Homo sapiens: one gene and its partners. The protein of the gene in region 5 interacts with the protein of the main gene of each other region in a biochemical or structural test. Each region holds a gene or a part of one and is shown on either strand. Other genes may lie near its edges.

Region 1 (3,500 bases), on a different chromosome or scaffold from region 5:
TCCTTCACATTCCCTCGGTACACTTCCTGCGCGAAGACTGGTGCATTGTCATTTATATCTGTCACTCTGACAGAGACCAAGGCCGTGGAGGAAAGAGAGAATGCCTCTCCAAGGTCAGAGGCCACCACAGAGAAGGTGAATGTGGGGTCTGTCTCGTGATCTAGGTCCTTCAAGGTACTGATCCAGCCCGTGTTGCTGTCAATATTGAATGCTTCCATTACCTTTTCGGGCTGGGAATCCGAGTGGAGGGAGTAAGTGACTTGTCCATTGGCTCCCCAGTCCATATCAATAGCTCTCACTTGTGTGAGTTTGGTGCCAACAGGCATCCCTTCCATTATAATGGTGTCATAGCTTGAAGTTTCAAAGACTGGCTTGTTGTCATTCAAATCCAATACCTTGATATCTACATCCACAGTAAACACAATGTCTACTTTGTCCAGGGGTATAGTGGCTGCTACTTTAAAGTGGAAAGCTGGGCTGGTTTCACGGTCAAGGCGTTTGTCAAGCTTAATAGTGCCTGTTTCCTGTTCTATGACGAATATGCCCCCTTTGTTATTTTCTGGCCGTTCCCCATTAACTGTGCTGAACCAGACATTCTGACTGGGCAAAATCCTCAGGGTGTCCACTGTACTCCCAATGGCTGTATCTTCTGCAATGGTAAAGGAATACTGAGACTGGGTGAATGATGGCAAGAACGTTTCAGGGGGCAAGACGTGGATATAGACAGGAATGAGGGAGTGCTTTACTGGGATGCCCCCATCTACTGCTTTGACAAAGAACGAAAGCACTGTATTTTTCAGCTGGTTAAAATTACCCTTTGTGACCATCCAGCCATTGTCAGGATCGATTTCCAGGAGGTCGGCCACTGAAACAGAGGCCTCGCTATAGAGGGAATAAGTAATCCTTGAATTTGCTCCATCATCGGGATCTATGGCTTGAACTTGAGTGACCAAGTGGCCCCTTCCAACATCTGCCCTGACACTGGCTCTATATTCCACTGTCATGAACTGGGGAGCATTGTCATTTTCATCCACAACAATCACTCTCACAGTGCAGAAAGTTGTTCTCCCTCCACCATCAAGGGCCCTCACAAAAATACTAACATCCCCTTCTAGAGGGTTTTCCCGGTCTAGCCTTTCTGTGGTGATGACCTGCCCATTGCTGTCTATGAGGAATCGATCCTTGGCAAAGTCATTGATGATGGCATAGCTGATCTGCCCATAAGTCCCTGGATCACCATCTGTGGCTCGAACATGAATTACCTTTGTTCCTGCAGCCACGTTCTCTCTCACCTCAGCTACGTATGTGCTTTGTGAAAAGGCAGGGCTGTACAAGTTAGCCCCAAGTACCCTAATATGCACCTGTGCAGTGCTGGTGAACAACCCATCAGAGACAGACACATTGAGACTGTACAGAGGCTCCATCCGCTGCTTCCGATGGTTGGACAATGTGATAACTCCACTCTTGCTGTCCATCAGAAAGCTCGTCCGGTCATTCCCAGATAAAATGCTATATTCCAACCGGTCAAAATCAGAGCTGTCTGCATCAGAGGCTTGTACACAGGTTACAAAATGGCCCCGGGGGGCTAATTCACTCACATATGACTCATAAATGAGCTGATTAAAAACTGGAGGGTTGTCATTTACATCAGAGATGTAGATATGAACGAGAACCTCACTGCTCAGTGATGGGAAGCCACTATCTATTGATCTGACTTTCAAAGTGCAGTGTTGTACTAACTCATGGTCCAGCATTCGTGCTGTCAGGATTAAGCCACTTGAGCTATCTATGTGAAAATAATCTGTGCTATTGTAGGTATCCTGGACAATCTGATAATGTACCATTTTATTGTTTTCTGAGTCTGCATCAATAGAGACAACTTGTAAAACAGGTGTCCCAATAAGAGATGCTTCTGATAGTGTTGTATTGTATGTAGGCTGATCGAAAATAGGGGGGTTGTCATTTACATCATTAACTAGCAAGTCAACAGTGACTTCAGCCCTAGCACCAGTAAGGGCGTCGCTGGCTCTTATTGTCAGCTTGTAAGCAGATGTAACTTCATAATCCAAAGGGCTAACAACTTTCAGGACCCCAGTGTCAAAGTCAATGTTAAACTGTTTAAAAGGGTCCCCATCGATAATGATATATATGATGCCTTGGCCTTCTGGACTGGTGGCATTGATGCTTAGGATGGGTGTGTTCATTCTGATGTCTTCATTGACAGATGCTGTATAAAAGGGCTTATCAAACACAGGCATTGCTTTGTTGACAATAGTGATGGGAAGCTCCACAGATGTAGACAAAGAAGGTTTTCCGCCATCCTTGGCTAGGATGGTGACTCCATACTCAATGTTGGACAAGTCAGAGTTGAATGCTTCCTTTAAAATAACATTCCCTGAATTAGGGTTAATTTCAAAGTGGCCATAGTCATCCTGCAGGACATAGGTCACTTCTCCATTTGGACCTTTATCTTTGTCAATGGCTGTCACCTGATAAATCAGAGTCCCGGGTTCCGCATCCACTTGAACAGCAGCATAGTATGGGAGGCCCACAAAGACTGGAGAATTGTCATTTATGTCTTCAATGTTAACCCTGACCACCACTCTGGCCACACGCAGATGGTCCAGCTCACGGCTGGCTTCTACCACCAGCTCATATAACTCTTGTTCTTCACGGTCAAAGGGGACTCCAGTCGTCTGAATGACCCCTGAGGTAGATTTTATCTTGAACTTATTTCCTGGGTTTAAGATGCTGTATTTTAAGGGCTCATTAAGGCGATTTCCAACTGCATTGACAATAGCAACTTTGGTTATGTTAGTGTTGTTCTCTGAGATTGAGGTGGAATAGAAGCTTTGTGTAAAGTGGAGGCCGCTGTCCATGGCTTCTTTAACCATGATGGTGACCATGGAGGTACTGTAGAACTTTCCATCAGACACCTTAACTATCAGCATGTAGTGATCCTTGGAGAGGTTGTTGTTTTTTATGGTAAGTACTCCACTGTTTGAGTCAATTAAAAAATGATCCAAACTGCCTTCCATTAGGCTGTATGTCAGTTCAGGGGGTACCTCAGAGTCAGGATCTGTGGCACTAACTTTCAGAACCTCCACTCCAACATAGGTAGGTAGAAGTAAGATAGTCTCAAACACAGCCTGAGTAAAAACAGGTGGGTTATCATTCACATCTGTCACCTCAATGTTGACTTCAACGGGACTCTCTGCAGTCAGTTGGGGGCTACCACTGTCTCTCACATGCACATGAAAATGGAAATGGGCAATGGTTTCATGGTCCAGGTTGGCAATTGTTCTGATTGCACCTGTACTGGAGTCCACCGTGAAAAACTTTTTTGCTGTTGACTCCACAATCTGATACACAAGCAGAGCATTCCGGTTGCTGTCAGCATCTGTGGCTCGAATCACCAGTGGGCTGTTATCCAAGCTCCTGACAATGCTATTAATTGGGGCAGCCTCACTTAGGCTGCCTGAGTATTGAGAAAAGAGAAA
Region 2 (3,500 bases), on a different chromosome or scaffold from region 5:
ACATAACCTTGTTTTGAAAAGAAATGATGAGTCTGACCAACATGGTGAAACCCTGTCTCTATTAAAAATACAAAAATTAGCTGGGCATGGTGGCGGTCACCTGTAATCCCAGCTACTCGGGAGGCTGAGGTAGGAGAATGGCTTGAACCCAGGAGGCAGAGGTTGGAGTCAACCGAGATCATGCTACTGCATTCCAGTCTGGGGGACAGAGTGAGACTCCATCTCAAAAAAAAAAAAAAAAAAAAAAGGCAGAATGAGACCCAGTGTCTTTCTGCTGTCTAACTCTGCTAGAGGGAGCAACACTGTGAGGGCCAGAGAAAGAGCTTGATCCAGGTGGACCATCTCACCATGGTCGGGCCCCTTTAGGGCCAGCCGGGTCTGATGATGGGGAAGGATCTCAAGCTTGACCTGGTCAGTGGTGTTGGCCAGGAACTGGGTTGCTTCTGCAAGTGTACAGTACTCCATGCTGGTTCCATCGATGGAGAGGATGTGATCTCCCACATGCAATGCGCCACATCTACGGAAAGGAGAAATACTCGGTAAGAGGCAGTGCCTTCCTCTTTGGAATCTGACTTTCATGTCCTTCATAGTTAAAATTTCACAGTTTTTCATTTACTTAAAATAAAAGAAAAGAAAAGTTTGAGTGTTATAGGAAACACCATCTGCCAAATTTTAAGTACCTTGAATATGAACAAGGAAGTAAAACCTTGTGGAAAATAGAGAAAAATTCAACGAAATGTTTTCTCTTGTCTTTCTTTAAAAAAAAAATCTTATTTTGGAGTGCTTGTGTGGAAAGTTGAGGGAAAGCGAGCAAGAGGAAAGGGAAAAACAGGAAAATGTTTCCCCTGGACTTTTGTCTGTGTTTTTTTGTTCTAGGCTTTTCTATCTATAAACATGAGTGGGTAAATCTTCAGAATCTCAAACATGACTCTCAGAATTGGAATAGGGTCTATTTTATGTGTAAAGAAGAATAACTTGGGGAGATTTCAGTAATACTTCCTTGGAATCCTCACACAAACTCCAAGATCACCAGTTCTTTATTATTATGTTATTCTGGAGTTGAACATGTATTAGTATAAAAGCTCTTGATAATGGTAGAAATTATGCAGGAGTCAAGTGAGTAATAAAACCAGGCCTGCATGGTGAGTCAAGGGGAAAGATGGGGGCAGGGAAGGGGCTAGCTGCTACATCTTGCTGAACTCAAGAGCTGGCTACTGGATGAGTTAAGAAAAGCTAGCGCAGTCGTCAGCATCCCCACATACCAGTCAAGTGAACAGCTCCTTAAACTGGTTACCCCCTGTGGAATGGGAAAAAACAGAGGGAGAAAATTAAAGCATCCTGTGCCATTGAACTGCACAACACCCCTGGATCAATGGCTGTCACTGATAAGGACTGAATGTTGGGTAAGACCACAATGGAGATGTAGACTGACCACTACGGGGGGTTGCTGCAGTTCACTGCACCATGGCTGGAGGTGGAAAGGCAGGTTGAGGGGCACGTGGAGAAGAGGGCTGGAAACATACAGGGGAGACTGGTCATTCAGGTGCAGTATATCTATAAATTCCCAGTGTGAATAGTCTACGTCTCAAGACAAAAGCATTTCAAGTCATATCTTCCAACTAAAAACATAATTCCACATTTTTTGCACTTGGAGTGCTTTAGCTATGGGAGATGAGGTTTTTCTTACCAGGAGCTGTAAAATAATTAATTAGATGGAAAGGTAGTCTTTTTTTATCTTCCCCTTTTACCTTACGAGTATAAAATATTAATTAGAAACATGAAATTTCATTTTTATTGTGGCATTGAAGCGAATGATGTTTTAAGACACCCTCGAAGGTTGTAAAATCCTAAGATTAACATGCTATGAGAGTATAGGACTTTTTAAAAGTATTGTAAAAAATATTTTAAAAAGTATTGTTTTATTTATTTAAGAAACAAAGAAATCAGATTTTATGGTAGCAGGATTTAATTGTCAACAATTCAGGAAAACCCATCACTGCTCTGCATGGGGTTTAAGAAAGATCTACTCAGCTACCCTACATTAAGAACAGGCTAGTGCCCTAGGACACAGTAAGAAAACTTGCTTAGTTGCTTGATTTTTTTTTCTATTGCTAAAGGCCACACCAAACATCTGGATGACGTGAAGTGACATCATGGGGTGGCTGACACATAGGTGAATTTTTAAGCCCTGTAACAGTAACTTGCTTCTGTGTGTGAAACCTGTATAAACTGGCAAGAGAACTGTGTGTGTGTGTGTGTGTATGTGTATATGCATGTGTATATGTGTATTACAAGTGTGTGTACATATGTATGTATATATATTTAAAATTGCACACATGCAATTTTGTAAAGGGGCACTTTCTTTCTTTCTTTCTTTCTTTTTTTTTTTTTGAGATGGAGTTTCACTCTTGTTGCCCAGGCTGGAGTGCAATGGTTCAGCTCACTGCAACCTCTGCCTCGCGAGTTTAAGTGATTCTCATGCCTCAGCCTCCCGAGTAGCTGGGATTACAGGCACCTGCCACCATGACTGGCTAATTTCTTGTATTTTTAGTAGAGATGGGGTTTCACCATGTTGGCCAAGCTGGTCTCGAACTCCTGACCTCAGGTGATTCACCCGCCTCGGCCTCCCAAAGTGTTGGGATTACAGGCGTGAGCCACTGCGCCTGGCGGAAAAGTAGGCACTTTCTACAATACTTACCTGTCTGCAATACTTGCAGATTTGATTTTGTCTATGACAATGACTTGTTTGTTACAGCACATCGAGGTAGTTAGGGCAACCCCAAGGCTGGCACCAGGAGTTTTGGCAACTTCGACTAGTAGTGGCCCGGATGCTGTTGCCACAGAGTCTGTCAAAGAACAAATTTTAGAAAACAAAACAAATAAAACAAATAAGCAAAGAGACAAAAGAAAGAGATGAAGAATATTCAGTTTGGTGTTAGCCTGTTAATTTTATCACTGAAACTTAGATTTCCCTCCATATAATATCCCCACAGCCAATAATAAATTCATAGGGCACCTCTTAACACACCTGTTCCATTCAGCTTGTATTGTGTTAATGTATGTGTAATGTTCATCTCTTCAATGAGATTTTAAGCTTCATGTCACTTGGGATAATATCTTATGTATCTTTATCCCCTCCACAGTGCTTGGCACAATGCCGAGCATATACTAGGTCTCTCAGTAAAGGTTTTTTAAATTAATTACTTAATTCAATAAATATCTTAGCACCTACCAGGAATAAATAGACGGATGGATGAATGAATGGATGAAAGGATGGATATAAAAAAGAAAGGAAGGAAAGAAGAAAGAAAGGAAGGGAGGAAGGGAGGAAGAAAGAAAAGAAGGATGGATGGGTGGATAAATAAAAGAATGACAAGAGGGATGGGAGGATGAATGGATGGGTAGATAGATAATCAGAAGAATGGATGGATGGATGATGTCTCTAGCCAAGTAGTAGGAATGTTACACTAAGTTGAATTTGTAAAGCTTAACTTCATATA
Region 3 (3,500 bases), on a different chromosome or scaffold from region 5:
AGGCAACTTCTGGTTTCCGGGATTGGCACAGACAACCAAAGGCACAAAGAGCCCACAGTAGCCAGGTTAAGTGGAGGGATGCTATTCCAACTGTTCCCCACCCCAATCCTCACCTTGTTCTCCTCCTCAGCCAGCCTCTCAAACATATTGGCATAGAGCTTCTTCTCCCGGGCAAGCTGCCTTCGGATCCGCTGCTGGCACACAGCCAGCTGGGTCTTGGCGGCTTTGTTGTTGGGGTAGAGCTGCAGGACCTTCTGGAAATCAGCCCGTGCCAGTTCAAAGTCATTCACGGCCAGGTGGGCCTCTCCCCGGCGGAAGAGGCCCTTCTCGTTGTTGCTGTCCAGTTCTAGGGCCTAAAGAATGCAGAGAGGAAGCCACATTGTGGGAGCTCAGGGCTTGTAGCTCATCTGGCCTAGACTGGGTTCCAAAGGTACCCCTCAGGAGGATGAGGAGGAATGCAAGTGGCTGGCTGCACCCCAGGAAGAACAAGGCCTGAGGCATTAAATGGAACAATCCAGGGACCTCATTTAATCCAACAGGCAGAGAGGGAAGACAGCAGGTCTTTGGATGAAATAAAGACTTCAGACATTAACATTCACTTTAGAATAAAGCAAGTAGGTAAGCGGAGAGGCTAAGAACCAAGGTGGAAGAAAACTCTTTATGTGATTCTTCCCATTCCGTGTCCTCCTCCTTCTTGCCAACTGCTTCCCACCAAAGCTAAGGTTCTTGCTATGAATACTTGCATCCGTGCCTTTGGTCTGTAACCTCAGAGCTCCCACTGATCCACCCTGCTATCCCTGCCCTAGTCACCAAGGGGAAGTTTCAGACATGCTGGCAGCTCACCCAACTCTGCCTGTGAATGCTGCTTCCATGACCTCTGAGGGGGCCTCACCTTGTTACAGCTTTCAATGGCAGCAGAGAAGGCCTGTAGTTTCAGATGACACATGGCCAGGTTGAGGTGAGAGGCCAGTCGAAGGGCCTGTGCTTTCTGTGCTTCCTCATTGGAAAAACTAGACTCATATTCCAGCCAAGACACGATCTTCTTATACTGTAGTAAAGCTTGCTTGTATTTACCTTCCTGGAATGGGAGAGAGGCTCAGGCACCTGGCACAGTTTCAGTGGTACTAGGCTCTTATACCCTGCAGACATCAGTGACACATGGCCACAAGAGGTTCCTGCTCCCACCCTTCCCACTGGCAAGGCCAGCAAGCTCACATATATGAAGTGAAGATGGCAGGTGCCAACCTGTCCACTTCTTGGCAGAAAATGATCTCAGTCACCAAGGGAAGGGGAGGCTCAGAGCAACTCTTCCTGGGAGTGTCCTTAGGACAATGACTGTTGGCTCACCTTGAAGTACACAGTGCCCCGCTCTTTCACTATGGTGCTCTGTTCCAGCTTCTCTTCTGAATTCATCTCCCAAGACTCCTTGGCCTGCCACACCCCAGGAGAGAAACAAAGTTGTCAGCTACCCCAGAGTCACGTACAGGGTGGAACTTGACTTTAGATGGGAAGACCCTGAGCAAACTTACCTTTTCAAAACTCTTGAGGTGTAATTCATATTTCAGCTCAGCATTTGGTGGGATTTGGAACTTTTCCTTCCCAACACTGCCAAAAGCATAGCTGGAGGGGTGAAAAACACTATGTATCATCTTGGCAACACTTAACCTGCTCCAGGCTGAAAAGGCTTCCTGTCCATTTCCTGGAAAGTACCTTCCCATCCCTTGAGACTTGGTTCAAATGTTTGGCAAATCTTCCCTGGCCTCTTCACACTGTCAGATGGTCCCTCAGCATCCTTCATACCCTTCTAATAACTTACAGCCAGGCAGCAGTGTGATTACTAATTTAAATAGCACCTCACTAAACAATGAGCTAGAATTAGAAGGCAGAAACAATGTTCTATTAGTCTCTGAAGCCCTATAGGAATTTTCAGCAGTGCCTGGCATGTAGTAGCTGTTTCAGTAATGACTGAAATGAATTAATGGGAGAGGAAAATCTTGATGGCAGAGGAGAGAATCTGTAGCAACTATGACTGAAAAGACTGGGCTTAGATCCAAGGAGATGTAGACAATTGGGCCATACTTCTAAGTACACTGAGGATATCATAATGGTGTATGTTTGGTGTGGCCAGAGTTAAAAAGGATACAAACAGCTGGTTCTACAATTCATTTTATATCTTTGATCTTGGTTTGCCTGCCTGCCTACCCTACGAAGTGCCCACCCCTCACCTGGGCTTGAGGTACACGATGGAATGTTCTCCTTTCTCCATGCGCTGAATGGCCCTCTCCAGACCATAAGGCAGATCCAGGTTCTCCCCCTCGCCAATCTCAAAGCGGAGCTCCCGCTGGTCAAAGAGCTTGTCCTTGTAGTACCCTTCCAGTGCAACTGGCATGAAAGAGAGGCAGTGTACCAGAGTTGTAAGAGGGCAGGTGACTGAGGAAGGATGCCATCAGCCTCCCTGCATCACCCCCATCATCCCAAGATTCTCCTGTGTTCTCAAATCTGGAGTGATATGAAGAGAATATGGTCCAACCCCTCATTTTATGGACAAGAAGATAGGCTCGGAGAACGGAAGTGTCTTGCCCAAAGCCACACAAGGCCTAAATATCAGAATGAGAATTGAAAGCCCAGACTGTACTGTCTCACCCTCCACGATAGCACCCTCATTGGGCTTAGCATAGCCTTCACCGCGAGTCTGTATTCTGCGAATGATTCCGCCATCTTCCTCTTCCGTCAGATCTTCTCCCTTAAACTCAAACAACTCCACCTGTGGGACAAGATGTGACACAATTCCTTCCCATGCTAACTCATGGGCAGTGAAACACAATCTTTCTCATCCGAGAGAGTCCCTACTAACTGCCAGGCCGGATCTGACCACAAGGGCAGTCACAAGGAGTTGGGTAGAGTGGCACTTTTTTTCAGTTCTTGGGAGCTGCCCTAATCTCAACTTTGGTAGAGGTGGGCAGACTACATAGATTTCAGTTAAGCTGAGGAGAGCAATCTATTTGCTACCTGCTCTACTAACACGGACATATCAGGACGCGTCCCAGATAATCCTAATTCACACTACCTGATAAGCCCAACCTGGTAGGTATTAGAAATGATTACCCAACATCTCTCAGCAGTTTCTCAGTATTCAAGGGCCCACGGATTGGCTCAACCATTTTCAGATTGAACAATGTCAAGTTCTATCTCCTCAGTGAAGCCTTTTCTCAGCCCTTGACCCACAGGGGAGCTACTGCTCCCTCTTCTGGTCTCTAGAGCACCAATATTCTGTACTGCCATTTATAACGGGACATAGTTTCTGACATCCCGACTCCTTTCAGTATTCTTCTGGGTACCGCTCTGGAGATAAAGATGCCTTAACCCTGACCATGCTTTGAGTCTGGAGAGGGGCTTGTGCCTGCCTCTTCCCACCCGAAGCTTCTATTACTTCCATTACTAGCAGCAGCAGAGCCCTCTGCATTTCTCCTCCCATAAGGCCAGACCCTCAGCCTTGGCTA
Region 4 (3,500 bases), on a different chromosome or scaffold from region 5:
TTTAAAATCAGTTTGTCCTTTTCATTCTTACCTAGCTCCTGAGGAGCCAATATTTGCATTATTTGTTGTTACTGTTGTTAAATTTTAATACATCTAATTTAGTCTCAACTTCTACTAAAAATTGAATCTAAAAATAAGTTAAATTTCCTTAGAGATGATGGAAGACACTGATGTCAAACAGGCCTGTGAAGAGTCTGAATAAATGTTCTTCATGAAATGTGAGAATGGGAAAAAAAGAAATTTTTAAAAATAGCTTATTTTCTATACATGTGATTCTGCATATGTGTTTTAAATTAAATTAAAAATTATAAGAAAAAAGTGACAATAAGTTAAACCTACCAGCTGTCCTGCTTTGTATATCTTTCCATCCCATTCTATTGCTGCATATGTTGCCCAGGGACCTTGCTTTTTAGAAGGAAGATCAGGACGTGTAATTACTCCCTTAAAAAGTGTAAATTTTATTTGTTTATCATACTTCTCATGACAGTCCTTCAGCCACAAAGCAAATTCTCTGTCAATTTTCATTCGCTGTTCCTGTAGAATTTTAAAATGTTTTATGAAATATAGCTACTAGCAAACAAATATAACCATAAACATTTGTCATTCATTTTATTTTTTTCCTTTCATATACTCCAATTCAGAAAACCTAATAAAAAATTAAATATTCTGCTGGATCCTTCCTCTGTACACATTTAGGATATTTCAAACAAATGCATTACCAAAGAAGAAAAATTTGATATTATTCTTAGAACCAAGGTATCCCTGGTCAATATCAACAATAAAACCTTCCTTTCCGCCTTTAATTCCTAGGATACACTAAAAACTGATGAACCCTTACTGCCTGGGAGGAGAACTAGCTAGCTCCACAAAAGGGATGAGTGGAGGCCTTCTAACTGTAAACCACATTCTCAATGGGACGATAAAAATCTCATTGTGTATCAAGTACTTTATAAACGTGAATACAATATACAAACAGATAGATGGTAAATCTGCAGTAGTAAAATTTCATTGGGGAAAACAATTGAGAAAAAGATGCCAAGAAAGACTCCTTATGAGGGTGATAACGAAAAAAGGTTGAGAAACACTGCTATGCAAAATGTACTTTTCTTTTTAATTTTCTCTTTTATATATAGAGCCTATCCAAAAAATAAACTCATAAAACTGAAGTGTTTTCTAATAATACTTAAGAAGATGTGTTTTTGCCAACCATTCTTCACCCTGTTGGGAGAGAATACAGAAATCTGTATTCAAGCATAAGGTGCTATACACTTGTTTGATGCCTGCCTCTAGGGCAATGAGGAGGTAAGACAATCTCCCCATTACATGCTTTCGCAGAGGACAGTCTGTAAAGTTACAGAACTCCATTCCTTCTTACGTACCTTATACCATAATATACCATTTCCAAAGGAAAGTAAGGCAAAATTAAAAATAATTTCAGCCTAAGTTTTTGATGCTTGCTGTCAAGAAGGATACTATCTTAGTTATTAATAAATTTGATTTTTTTAAAGTTATATGAATGAAAAAGGAAATATATATACATGGTAAAGACTCACAGGTCCAATATGGTATACAGTTTCTGGGAAATTGCTGCCACACTTACTCCTATAACTAGGTACCAACTCTTTCCCAAATCAGCAAATCATTGTTGTCAGTTTGCCAGCTGACATGGAGATTAAATTAGTAACTAGGAACCAGAAAGTCTGACAACCAAAATGTTAAACTACCCTTCTAAAACTCTCAGGATGGATTCACTATCAACCAAACAAATTACCAAATGCATTAATTCCAGACACTCAGTAACAGTCAAAGTACAATTCAGAAGGCATGTCAAGGTGACAGGTAACCTAGGGGAAAAGTATGCAGATATTCACTTTATAATATTCTTTCAACTTTTCTGTGTATTTGAACATTTCCTTCTTTTTTTTTTTTTTTTAAATACAGAAGGTGTCTCACTGTATTGCACACGCTGGTCTTGAACTCCTGGCCTCAAGCCATCCTCCTGCCTCAGCCTCTCAAGTAGCCAAGATTACAGGTGTGAACCATTATGCGCAGCTTGAATGTTTCAAAATTAGAAAATATATATTTTAAAAGTACAGTGTAACAAAGGAATAGAATTAACTTATTCTGGATAGCTTTTGAAAACACCCACTGCTCAATAAATGTTGGATAACTAACACCATATTATAAATGAATTCTAAGTGTATTATAAAGGAGTAGTAACTCATTTTGATAAGGTCTTTCTCGGTGTATAATTCTTAAAAGTGTCCTAATCTTCTATGATTCACAAGCTTTATAAGAGCAAAATTAATTTCAACATCTTACAGGACTGACTGACTACAAATACTATGTACTATGCACTGTATTTATTGCCCAGCAATAAATTGATAATAAAATCATCTATTTCTTGGCAATTCAACATTAAACTACTGAAAGAGTAGTATCAAAAGTCTCTGAGGTCTGTTCACAGAATACAAGTACACTAGTATACTAGTTTCACTCAACTTTGTAACAAATTTCAAAGTGAAATCATTCTTGTTGTATTAATCAATACATGTATTTTAATACTGATCAATCTCAAATCACCTTTTAGCTCAAAGTACTTCACAGTTTTACCCCATTTTTACCCTCAAGACTAGCTAAAAATTGCACAACTAGGTTATTAATATACAAATATAGCCCTTAAAGCAAATACAATTGTTCATACATGTTCTCATTAAGATGCTTCTGTGGCTTCTACTATGTCAAGGGCTAGATATTAAGATCTTGGCTGGGTGCGATGGCTCATGCCTGTAATCCCAACATTTTGGGAGACCAAGGCAAGTCGATCACCTGAGGTCAGGAGTTCGAGACCAGCCAGGCCAACATGGTGAAACCCCATCTCTACTAAAAATACAAAAATTAGCCAGGCGTGGTGGCACGCACCTGTAGTCCCAGTTATTTGGGAGGCTGAGGCGGGAGAATAGCTTGAACCTGGGAGGCAGAGGTTGCAGTGAGCTGAGATTGAGCCACTGCAATCCAGCCTGGGAAACAGAGTGAAACTCCTGTCTTAAAAAAAAAAAAACAAAAAAAACTAATGAAGATATGTAAATTCTATCCAAACCTAGTCTTTACTAGGTAGGTTTAGTCATTACTAAAAAATTAGCTTTAAATTTTTTAGTAATGTGAACACTTGACTGCTCATAAAAAAATTTATACATCATAGTCTTTTGATGCAAAATATCAATAAAAACCTACACTGCTAGTGTCTTCTTTTACTTAAAAATAAAACATTTGCAAATATTCACAACTTTATATTTAAAAATCATACCTGTCCATTTAAAATCCTTGTAAAAAGGGTGTTCTTATCTTTCAATTTTAGCTCAAGATCCATAAACGTCAATTTATTTGTGCTGACCTGGAATTTGTCATTAGTGAATAATGCACCAGATATCCTATTGTAGCATTCAATTGGTGCAAGCCCTCTCTTCTTAGGAGGAGTACACCAGTCAAAGCTTGAACAG
Region 5 (3,403 bases):
TGGTTACAGTCTTGGTGATGTGGCTGCGTCTGTGGGAGGATGTGGATGGATGATGACAGTGATGAACTGGCCAGGCCTGAGGCAACCCTCCCACTTAGATTTGGCTTTTAAAGTCTTCAAGCTCATTGAGGGCAGCTCATGAGACCTCTTGACTCTGGGTCCACTGCTCCTTTATATACACATATATGTGTATATATATGTGTGTGTGTGTGTATATCTATATATGTGTGTATATATATGTATCTATATATATATCTGTGTGTGTGTAACTGAGTTCAGTGTCTTGTCATGTTTTCTCCATGGGGGTTGTACAACTTAAGTTTGCCCAGTCCCTAGTTCAGTGAGTGCACAGCTGAAGCTCTGGGAGGGAACAGGCAAGATCTGGGTCTGGGGGTGAGAGGGCTCCCTCTGGTTCCCACTATCCAATCCTAACCAGTCTTACAGGGAACAAACACCGTACCTTTTATCACAGCGATTCCAAGAAACACACACACCACCACTGAAGGATATTTAACTTTTCTTAAAAAAAAAATCTTAACCATGAAAGGAAGAAAATAAAAGAGTATACATTATCTTAACAGCAGAACAGTCATTTCCATATCTATATTTTATATATTATATATATATTTATATATATATATATGTATATATACACCTAGCACAGTGTGTATATTCTATTCATCAGGGAGAGTTGGGTGAGGACGTGGTGATGGGGCCAATGCTGCGGTGGCCCCTTGGATGGTCCTGGGTGAATTCAGGGACTCGGCATTCAGACCCCTGTCCCCACCTCCTGGGGCCCAGTCCTCAGCTCCGTACCTGCTTCACTGGTTTTCTACAGGGACAGGGTGGGGAAGAGGGGGACATAGGTGGGGTAAGAAACCCCCATGATCCCCATCTTGTGAAGATGAGAAGTCCAGGGAGGGAGGGAGTAGCTTGGCAGCAAGCTGTGGAGGGCAGGCTCTGGAGCCAGGTGGGATGGGGAGCCAGAAGACCTTCCCACTCACAGGGACAGGAACACTCAGGCCTGGCTCCCGCTTTAGGCTCGATCCTGGAACTGGGTTGTTAACTAAGGAGATACAAGTGAAACCCCTCTTCCCTAAGCAGCTCCTTCCATAACTGCCTCCAGCACTTCAGGAACAGGAACAAAAAAGGTCAAAGTTATTTACAATAGCAAAGATGCACATACGATACATACATATTTATAGGAAACCAAAGTGACAAAGAGGGGAGGGGAGGCACCCACCTCTGCCTGGGGTCTTATGGAGAAAGAGGGGAGGAAGAAAGTGCATTTACACAGAAGCCTCCTCCTTTCACTTGCATGTCTGAGGGCAGCGCACATACAGGCGTGCGCGTGTACACACATATGTGGGGTGAGGGCAGACCATGGTGAGTGGGGGCCTTTCGGATGCAGTCAGCATGCTTAGGAGACATGAGGCCTTGGAGGGTTGGGCTAAGGGAGGGAAAAGACACTGAAACCTGACTCCGACTTGAGCAGACCAAGCAACATGCGGGTCTCCCCCCGGGCCTTGGCTGGATCCTAGTTTCCCTAACTGCCTCCTCCACAGGGAGGAGTGTTGGGATCCCCCCTACCCTGTGCCCCGGTCTCAGGCCAGTCCCTGAAGGAGGAGTGGGGACGCAGAGGATTTGGTGGTTTGTACGGTTATGGTCCTGGTGACGCGGCTGCGTCTGCTGTGCTGTCTTCCAGGGGGGCGTCAGAGCCTGTGGGAGGAGGATGAAGGTGAGGAACTGGCCAGCCTGAGGTGACCGCTTCCACATGTTTTGTCTAGAAAGTTCAGGCTCACGAGAACAGATCCTTCATCACCTTCCTTCTCCTCCAGAAACCCCAGTTTCTCGTAGGGCTTGAAAAGGGCTGTCTACTGAACTCCACTTTCATCAGCGCCTAAAGCCCTTAGGTCAGGTAGGTATGTGCCTTGTCTTCCTGAGTTATGACATAGCTGTGTCCCTGGCCCACCCAGTGTGGTTCTGAATCATTTAATCAGCACGAGTCTTAGGCCGACACCATGGTGTGCACCTGCAATCCCAGCTGCTTTGGAGGCTGAGGTGGGTGGATCACTTCGGCCCAGGAGTTTGAGACCAGCCTGGGCAACATAGCCAGGCCAGCCCTTGTCTCAAATAAATAGAAAAAAAAAAAAAAAAAATATATATATATATATATATATATATATAAAATTAAAAAAAGAACAAGTCTTAGAGGTGAGAACAGGCTCCTCCTGGTTTGTTACCTCCATAGCACAAGGAAAAAGAGGGCTCAGTGCTAAGCTCCCCATTTTGCCAGGGAGCTTCTGTGGGACTTCCCTAAAAAGATCCCTCTCTGAAGCTGAGAGAATGAACTCGTTTCACTCAAGGGGAAACCACTCTCAGAACCACCATCTCTCACTGCTTAGTGATGTGTCCTCACGAGTTGGCAGACTTCTCCCCCAATGGTAGGAACCGAGAGGGACCTGGCTTCACTCACCATCCTCAGGGCAGGGCCCCAGTTCATGGCTGTTCCTGGAGTCAGAAGCTAGGGGCTCCTTAGCGGGAGGTGAGAGGGAGCCATCTGTCCATCTAGCTGCTTCTGTGTGGAAACTGCCCACAGGCGTGGTGCCACCAGATGACTCTCCCCCAAGGGACTTGAGCAGCTCTCTGTGGGCCAGCTCCATATCCTGGAAGAGTCGGCGGGGGAATGTCTGCTCGAGTCCTTCTATTCCTAAGGCCCCTGGGGAAGGGGTCTGTGCTGGGCCTTGGGGAGGAGGGTGTGATTTAAGGGTGGCTGGGCGGGCTGGGGGAAGATCCCTGGGCCAGGACAGGATCTAGGGCTCCCGCGAAGACACACATCTCACTCATGGGGAATGGTTTTGGGGTGATGGACTGAAGGCCTGCAGGGACCCAAGCCCTGCTTCCCTCACCTTGAGCCTGTTGAGCTTGAGAGTGAGCTGCTCAATGGTATGGAAGATCATGCCCACGTCCCTGAGGGCCAGGCTTGGAGGAGAGCGGCTGGGGCGTCTTGGATCATCGTTGCCTCCCTGCAGCTGAGGCTGAGGCTCTGTCTGCCCTGCAGGGAGGCTGTCAGGCTGAGGGGGGCTCATGGGTGCCTCTGAGTGGTCGGTGCTTGAGTCCGGGGGTCCTGATGGCATGCTGACATAAAAGCAGTTCCCTGTCCCCACAGTAAGAGAATGAGATCAGGAGGCAAACAGAGAAGTCGAAGCTATCCTCCCGTTCCTGTGGGATTCCCCAGCCACCTGACAGAGCAGGCCAGGCAGTCCTCTCCAGACAAACTCAGAGAACGTGGGCCTTGCTCACTGTCTGCCAGCCCCCTAAAAGCCCTGCTCCCGAGACCTTCTAGATGACACTTGCTCAGTCTGGCCCCAAGCTGGGGGAGATGCTGAGCGATGAACTCAAG
Region 6 (3,500 bases), on a different chromosome or scaffold from region 5:
ATAATTATACAATAAAAGTGAATCATTTTAAAGACATATCATTTACAATGTTATAAATAAGTATCAGAAAGCTCACAGCTGAAATGCTGTCAGAACATTTTCCAAGCACACATTTTGTAGCATTGAACCCCGCTTTTCATTGACAGAATAAAATGAGGCATACAGATATGATCGTTGGTTCCACTAGACTTGTCTAATTTTTTCCAATCTCATATTTTTTTTTTTCCAGATAGGTGAAAACTTGCTCAGTGTGCCTTCCACAGTTGCCACGGCAACTAGCCTATCACACACAGCTCACCTTTTCATTCACTCCGTCGCTATTGTCTTTAGAAGCCTCTTCAGAATGCTGCTTTCCTAGAGCAACCATTGAGCAGTCATTATCTGTTGTCTTGGCATCTTGCTTTGAATTCTTTTTTTGTCCCATTTGAAGTTGGCTAGACTTGTAGGCCAAAGCCGGTATTGTGTTCACTAAAATTAACTGCAATGGTTTTTTGTTTTCCTTGTACTGACACTGAATATACCGTGAAAAGGCTGACCTATAGGTCTTGTTGAACAGTGTGTAGACTAGTGGGTTGACTGCTGAAGAGAGATAACCGATCCAAACAAACACATTGAGCAGGGCCCCAATGACATCCTCATTGCAGGACTCTTTGCAGATGACGGCCATGATGTTTGTGATGAAGAAAGGGCACCACATCACCACAAACAGGAAGAAGACGATGCCCAGCACCTTGCATGCCTTTTGCTCATTGCTGATGGACTGCATAGTCCTCCTGCCTGTGTAGGACCCTGGCTCCCTATGGATCGACCGCTGGAAGAGCTTTTCTGAAGACAAAGAACTCTGAGGGAGGAAGCTGAAAGAAGCTAATTTGGCCCGTGTGCCAAGATCACTTACACACAAAGTAGCTTCTTTCTGGAGTGACTTGATAGTTAGAAAGTAGGTGATCACCATGATGGTTAAGGGAATGAAAAATGACACAAAAGAGCCGATCAGGACAAAGTTATCATCGGCGAGTAAGCAACTCCCCTCCTTAAAGACCTTCGAATCGTCCTGTAGCCCAAAGACTGGTATTGGCATGGATATACCTGGAGTTGAACAGAAAATGAAACATGATTATTAAGGAATTAAGTATATGAAGGCAAGAGCATCATCACATAATATTGGCTATTGAAAAGATTTTATATCATCGTTTAAAAGCTTAACATACTTTGAGAATTTAAAATTCCTTTGGACTTACATATGTGTTTTGTAAGTATATATTATGTAGTTACTTGTATGTTATATTGCCCTATATAGCTAACCCTTATAAAGAAGTATAATAAATCTAGCTTTATTTTTTATGCCACATTTTTCTGATTATAATATTATACTTATTAATTGAAGAAACACACAGAGAGGCAAATAAACTAAAAATTGTCCAATAACGTCACCATCTAGAGATAGCCACAATTAACAACTGATGCTGTTCATTTTATTTATTTATATATTTATTTATTTTTGTCTATGAAAATCTAGAATATAGATTTGTTTCTTTTTTTGATGCTGTTCATTTTAGATACATTCACACACTTACCATGTGCACACATTTTAAAACAGAATTGAGGTTCTTTTTCACAAATAGTTCTGTATCTTTTTTAAAAAATCTAATAATATGTCACAAGCATGGCTTATATATAAAAATAACTATAAAATTTTAAATATAGTTTATTTTCTCTCTAGAAAATTTGGGAGGTACAAAAATGTAACAATGAATAAAGAAAAATAATATGTATTCTCACCAGTCAGGGGCAACCATAATTTACATTTGCATCATTTCTTCTTCCACTTACATGTACATATAAAAGCAAATGTGTATATGCAGTACTTTACATGCAGTACTTTGTACCTTATATGTTTTAGATCTTCCTATTCCATTTAACATTATAAATCATGATAATTGCACATAAAATATTTTTGAGAAATACAATTTTCTAATATTAATTTAAAATAACCAATTTTAATTCTTTTTAAAAAAGCTTTTATTATGGGACATTTTTAACATACACACAACTAACAAACCAAAAACCAAACCCAGTACAGTGAACTCGTCACCCAGCTTCAAAGATTATCAGCTCAAGCCCAATCTTGTTTCATCCATATGTCCTCTGGCTGCCATCCCTCCCATGTTATTATGAAGCAAATCCTAGACATCATGTCATTCAATCTGAAAATATTTATTACGTAGATCTAAAAGCCATGCACTCTTAGACAAACCTAATATTTTCACAATACCATTCTCACTCCTAAATAGAAGTTTAATATTTCCTTAATATTAAATGTAGAGTTAGTGTTCAAATTTCCAATTGTCCCATAAAGGTTGTTCTATGTTTTTAGTAGTAGAGCATTCATAAGGATGGATTGCAAAAAACAAGACAGCCATAGACTTTTTATTGACAAATATAAAAAGTAGGTATAGGATGAGATAATACAGGGGAACATGGGCCTATATGGTTCATTGCTCCATCACCCAGATTTGGGGGATCTGTAAGGCTCCCTCAGGTACAGGGATTAGGCAGAGGAGGAAGCAGAAGTGAATAAAGGCAACCCCTGGCCTCTAATCATGCTATGTGCCCCACTTGATGATAGGACCTTTTTAAAGGAAGATTCAACTGGCCATGTTGTGCAGTTTCACCACCCAGCCCCCACCATGGACAACCTCTCTGCTCCTGGGGAAATAGGTGTATCTTTCTCTACTGGCCTGGGATGGTTGGTCCAAGGCAATCATGAGATGGCTTATTCTCTCTGCCATAAAGGTAGAATCAGGATGATAAAAAAGAGAGGAAACATGAATCAAGTACTCTGTATAACTTAGTTTAAGATTGTTTCTTTCATGAAATGGTAGATATTGCAGGGACAGCCTGGGAGAAAAAGTCAGAAAAATAGTTCCCTTCTAACTCCTGCCCATATTATCAGCACACTCAGAATTGTAGAACAAAGAGTGTTGTGGTTACTGCTTCTGACCGTCTTTAGAGTCTAATACATGGTCTCACACCAGCCAAGAACACCGGTTTATTCCAGAATTGGGGGCCACTGCCTCACTCTTGCCATCCATCTGGAAAAAGGTTTTTGGAGAATCTCTAATCTAACTTCTGCATACTCAGAACAGAGTTCCGCTTCATCCAAGCACAGGCATGACTGTCCTAACCTCATGTCACCTCACATTGGCCATCGTGGCCAGGAAAGAACGCTGAGTTGATGTAATATTCAACACAAATCTTTCTTAGTGACATTTGCCATTATCTTCAAAGACTTAATTAACAATATTTGTCACTTGCCTATGCAAGCCCATCCAGGATTCTTGGAAGGTGGAGATAAATGACATCAGAGCTGTTCATAAGGACACTTATTGTGGCTAATGACTCTTCATTTCCTCCATCCCTCTCTGTTCCTGGCCCATTGTTTGCAACATTCAAGAAGAGATTGATGAGCTGTGCCTCCAAGGAGAACATCCTCTGAGACC
Region 7 (3,500 bases), on a different chromosome or scaffold from region 5:
CTCACCTCTCGGGGGATGCGGCCATGGTACCAGGCATGGCTGCGGAGATCCGTGCTGCTGAGTTTGAGCTCCTCCTCCAATTCCTTGTGGAGTTTCTCTGGCGATGAGTCCAGGATGTACTTCTCCTTGGAGAACTGGGTAGAAAACAGCAAGAGTTGGCATCCAACTTAAAGTCTCCTTCTTCTTTCCCTCCCAACTTCATTCTACCATGGATGAACTCCTCCTATCCTGGGACTCTGGGAACACTAAGGCACAGGTGCCAGACCCTTTCCCATGGGTCCCAGAAAGAGTAAAGAAATCTCAATTCCTTCCACAAAACAATGCCAGCTGCATTCCAGGCCCTGTGCTATATGCCAGGGGTGGATGCAGTGATATATAAACCAAGCCCGGCCCTCAAGGCAGTGCCTAGTCTGAGGAGAGGCAAAAGCAACAGGAGCCTCTGAGTAGAGTGCGGTCAGCACCACAGCGCTGGACAGCGGCAAAGAGCCGGGTGGCTTTTACAAGCGGGATTAAGCCTGGGCACGACAGAGGGGTCTCGGAAGCCTTCCTGGAGGAGATGGCAGTAAGAAAACACTCATTATATACCAAGGGCACCAAACTGTTCTTGAAGTGTTGGAGGGGGATTTCTACAGGTGAATCTTGGAGGTAAGGCAGCAGGTAACTGCAGGAAAAGCTATGAACAAAACCACAGAACTGGTTGGACAAGGATACGTTCTGGGATGGTGCATTCTACAATGCAAGGGTGGGGAAGGGACTATAAACAGGGACACGGGGACCCCAAACAGACATCTGCATTGCCCCTTACAATTTCCAAGGCCATTTCTCCCTTGAAATCCTCAGCAATCCTCACCCAGATGGGGAGACCATGGCCCAGCAGGGAAGCCCAAGGCCACTGAGGGAGATAATGTCCAGTACTCCACCCTCCCACCTGGCCCAGAAACTCCTGGTTTCTTGATTACTGTGGCCTGAAGTTGGAGGCTGATGGATCCCAGGGGCCCTAAGGGAAGAGGAAAGGAAGCCCTTAATGCCAGGTGTACGCCCACCAGAGCCCAGCCCAATCCTGGCTGTGCCTTGTGAGCTCTCTGGGCCTCAATTTCTTCCTCATTAAAATGGGTACAGTGACAGAACCTGCCTCACCTCACTGCGAAGATGAAAAGAGACAGCACTCCAGAGTACTACTAGCACATGGACATCCTCATCACTGCGAGGACATGGGATGGTTCTTCCTCTCCTTCCCCCACCTCCAGGCCCCAAAGATGGCTACTCCAAGACAGACAGACCCCAGCGCTGGCCAGAAGGCAGGACAGATGAGGGAGGGCAGTAAAGGGCCTTCATCCCAGGTGAGTCTCTCCCTGGGGCCCCTCGCTCCTGAGAGTCCGAAGGTCCTCCAGTCCACTCCCTGCCTCCTCAGACTATCCACAGATCTCGCCTCCTAATTCTGTGGCTACATCCCTCACCCCTCTGCTCCCATACTGCCTGGGTTTAGCCTAGTCTGCATTGCTCCCAAGACACCATGATTCCCAGTGTCAGAGATATCTAGAATCTCTGATTCCATTCAACATTGACTAGGTCCCTATCCTGGTCCTGTGCCAGGGCTGAGGACCCAAGGTGGCCTCTGCCCTGGGGGAGGCCTTGCAGACACTGACAATCAATTCCAGGTTTCCTGAATGTCCCGAGATGCACAGAGATGGTGCACCACCAAACTAGTCAGGGGGCAGAGTCAGGAATCACTTCCCTGAAAAGGTGGTGTTTCTGCTGAGGTCTGAAGGACTGGGTGAGCCAAGCAAAAGCACCAGGGTGGAGAGGGCAGGTGGACAGGTGGACAGGGAAGAGCTTCTGGGGAGAGAGCGGCAAAGTCAGGGTCCTACGGGCAGAGCCAAGGGGAGGGAGGGGAGATGAATAAGAAGCTTCCAAGGGGCTGTGGGGGCAGGGGCAGGTGTGGCACGGCTGCCTCAGGGAGCTGGGGTTTATCTGGAGGCCACAGCAGAGCCATGGAGGGGTTTGGAAGTGTTGGGGCAGGTTTAGTCCACTTATGGAGAGCAGCCTAGGGTTTTCCAGGCAGTGGCAGGGCAGATAAGGCGTGGGCAGAAGGAGTGGGGGAAAGGGAGTTTAGATGGCCATTGATTCATGTGGGGGAGCAGGGCGGAGGGGTCAGAGAGGACTCCTGGCCGAGATCCTAGAAGGATGATTGGGACATGCTCTGAGTGGGCAAGGCTGGGGCAGGAGCAGCTTGGTGGTGGACCCATGAAAATTTGGACCTTGAGGAGCCTGCAGGGCTCTGGGGACAGATGGTGGGAGTGGGCGGTTTGCACAGGTGCTCAGGAGAAAGGCGGGGCCTGGGAGTGGGAATTCTGCACATCCTCCGGCCGTGGTAGAAACCGATGCCCCCGAAGGGCAGAGAGGCCCAGGGCTGGGCTAGGATCTGGGCCTTCTCAGACACCTACACTTCTCCAAGGGGTCCCCTACTTCTGGGGGTCCCTGGTCTCTCTCCCTCTCACTCTGCGGTGCTCACACCAGGCTAGTCCTCTTTCCTCATATCACACCAAACCCTGGAAAGGGGAGAGTGGGCGTCACAGGGAAAAAGGGAACCAAGACCTCAGCCTTCTGGCGTCCTCCTTGACAAAGGGCATGCGATTGAGACCTTCCCCCAGTTCCACAGCTGGAGCTAGAGGGACGTGGGCAAAGGAGGGAGGAGGCTGGATGTTGAAGAACCGCCCCAAGGCTGCCACTGTGTGACCTTGAGCCAGTCACTTCCCCTCTCTGGGCCTGGGCAGCCTCATCCGTTAAAGGGGCTGGGAGACTGGGCTCCCCTTTTCCAGCTTAATCACTGGTCACGGAGAGTTTGGGGGGACCAACTTGGTCCTCCCACACACCTGAGGGTGAGGAATCCTAGGGTCCCTGTGCCTTGATCTCACCTCGACCTGGGAGCCCCCAGTTCCCTAGAGTTGGGGGTGCTGGGGTGCGAATGCAGCATCCCTGCGCTCGGCGCCCTGCTATTGGCCAGAGATGATCTCACCGCCTCCCGGCCTGCGCGCGCCTGATTGGCCGGTGCGGGGATGCTGCGCTCCGCCGCCGGCGGGGCAGTCCTTCAGGCGGGCTCCGCGAGCGTGTGTGAGCCTGGGGGAGCGAAGAGCCGACGCGCCTGGCATCTCCCAGGGGGCTCAGGGGGCAGGAGCGCGGAGACCCCCGGACAGGGTCTTAACCCCTTCCCGCCAGCCCGAGCCCAGCATCCCCTCCAGCTCCCCTCGGCGTCCCAACCCCAAGCAAAGCCATCCCCAAAGGATGCTCCGCAGAGAGGCGGGGTCCGGGTCCTCCCCTCCACCCCCTTCCGTTTAACCCTCTCACCGCCGCGGCGCCGTCCTGCACTGCCCGGCCAGCTGGGCTGGGAGAGACCCGCGCCCCAGGCATGTCCAAGCCCACCTAGAGGGCGGGAGGGTGGCGGGCGCTCTGGCCCCAACCCTGGCATCCGAAGCATCCCCCGCGTTTCCTGCTCCTCACTC

Evidence for each region.
Region 1: the proteins of ARHGEF11 (region 5) and FAT3 interact in a test that uses a peptide from one of them, tested with the Homo sapiens proteins (one large-scale study listed by IntAct).
Region 2: the proteins of ARHGEF11 (region 5) and GRIP1 interact in a test that uses a peptide from one of them, tested with the Homo sapiens proteins (one large-scale study listed by IntAct).
Region 3: the proteins of ARHGEF11 (region 5) and FKBP4 interact in a test that uses a peptide from one of them, tested with the Homo sapiens proteins (one large-scale study listed by IntAct).
Region 4: the proteins of ARHGEF11 (region 5) and SMCHD1 interact in a test that uses a peptide from one of them, tested with the Homo sapiens proteins (one large-scale study listed by IntAct).
Region 6: the proteins of ARHGEF11 (region 5) and HTR2A interact in a test that uses a peptide from one of them, tested with the Homo sapiens proteins (one large-scale study listed by IntAct).
Region 7: the proteins of ARHGEF11 (region 5) and SH2D3C interact in a test that uses a peptide from one of them, tested with the Homo sapiens proteins (one large-scale study listed by IntAct).

Annotation. Positions count from the first base shown.
Region 1 is NC_000011.10:92,798,318-92,801,817, reverse strand, and holds part of FAT3 (protocadherin Fat 3 isoform 1 precursor), read right to left. Parts: coding exon 1-3,500.
Region 2 is NC_000012.12:66,462,577-66,466,076, forward strand, and holds part of GRIP1 (glutamate receptor-interacting protein 1), read right to left. Parts: intron 2,847-3,500; coding exon 2,699-2,846; intron 518-2,698; coding exon 348-517; intron 1-347. UniProt on the Homo sapiens protein: May play a role as a localized scaffold for the assembly of a multiprotein signaling complex and as mediator of the trafficking of its binding partners at specific subcellular location in neurons.
Region 3 is NC_000012.12:2,797,970-2,801,469, reverse strand, and holds part of FKBP4 (peptidyl-prolyl cis-trans isomerase FKBP4), read right to left. Parts: intron 2,765-3,500; coding exon 2,644-2,764; intron 2,383-2,643; coding exon 2,226-2,382; intron 1,621-2,225; coding exon 1,530-1,620; intron 1,432-1,529; coding exon 1,348-1,431; intron 1,079-1,347; coding exon 893-1,078; intron 354-892; coding exon 114-353; intron 1-113. UniProt on the Homo sapiens protein: Immunophilin protein with PPIase and co-chaperone activities. Component of steroid receptors heterocomplexes through interaction with heat-shock protein 90 (HSP90).
Region 4 is NC_000018.10:2,700,726-2,704,225, reverse strand, and holds part of SMCHD1 (structural maintenance of chromosomes flexible hinge domain-containing protein 1), read right to left. Parts: intron 3,492-3,500; coding exon 3,308-3,491; intron 535-3,307; coding exon 340-534; intron 1-339. UniProt on the Homo sapiens protein: Non-canonical member of the structural maintenance of chromosomes (SMC) protein family that plays a key role in epigenetic silencing by regulating chromatin architecture.
Region 5 is NC_000001.11:156,934,340-156,937,742, forward strand, and holds the end of ARHGEF11 (rho guanine nucleotide exchange factor 11), read right to left. Parts: intron 3,158-3,403; coding exon 2,910-3,157; intron 2,667-2,909; coding exon 2,477-2,666; intron 1,906-2,476; exon of another isoform or gene 1,792-1,905; intron 1,720-1,791; coding exon 1,661-1,719; 3' UTR 501-1,660; downstream 1-500. UniProt on the Homo sapiens protein: May play a role in the regulation of RhoA GTPase by guanine nucleotide-binding alpha-12 (GNA12) and alpha-13 (GNA13). Acts as guanine nucleotide exchange factor (GEF) for RhoA GTPase and may act as GTPase-activating protein (GAP) for GNA12 and GNA13.
Region 6 is NC_000013.11:46,834,554-46,838,053, forward strand, and holds part of HTR2A (5-hydroxytryptamine receptor 2A), read right to left. Parts: intron 1,087-3,500; coding exon 284-1,086; 3' UTR 1-283. UniProt on the Homo sapiens protein: G-protein coupled receptor for 5-hydroxytryptamine (serotonin).
Region 7 is NC_000009.12:127,751,167-127,754,666, forward strand, and holds part of SH2D3C (SH2 domain-containing protein 3C), read right to left. Parts: intron 135-3,500; coding exon 6-134; intron 1-5. UniProt on the Homo sapiens protein: Acts as an adapter protein that mediates cell signaling pathways involved in cellular functions such as cell adhesion and migration, tissue organization, and the regulation of the immune response.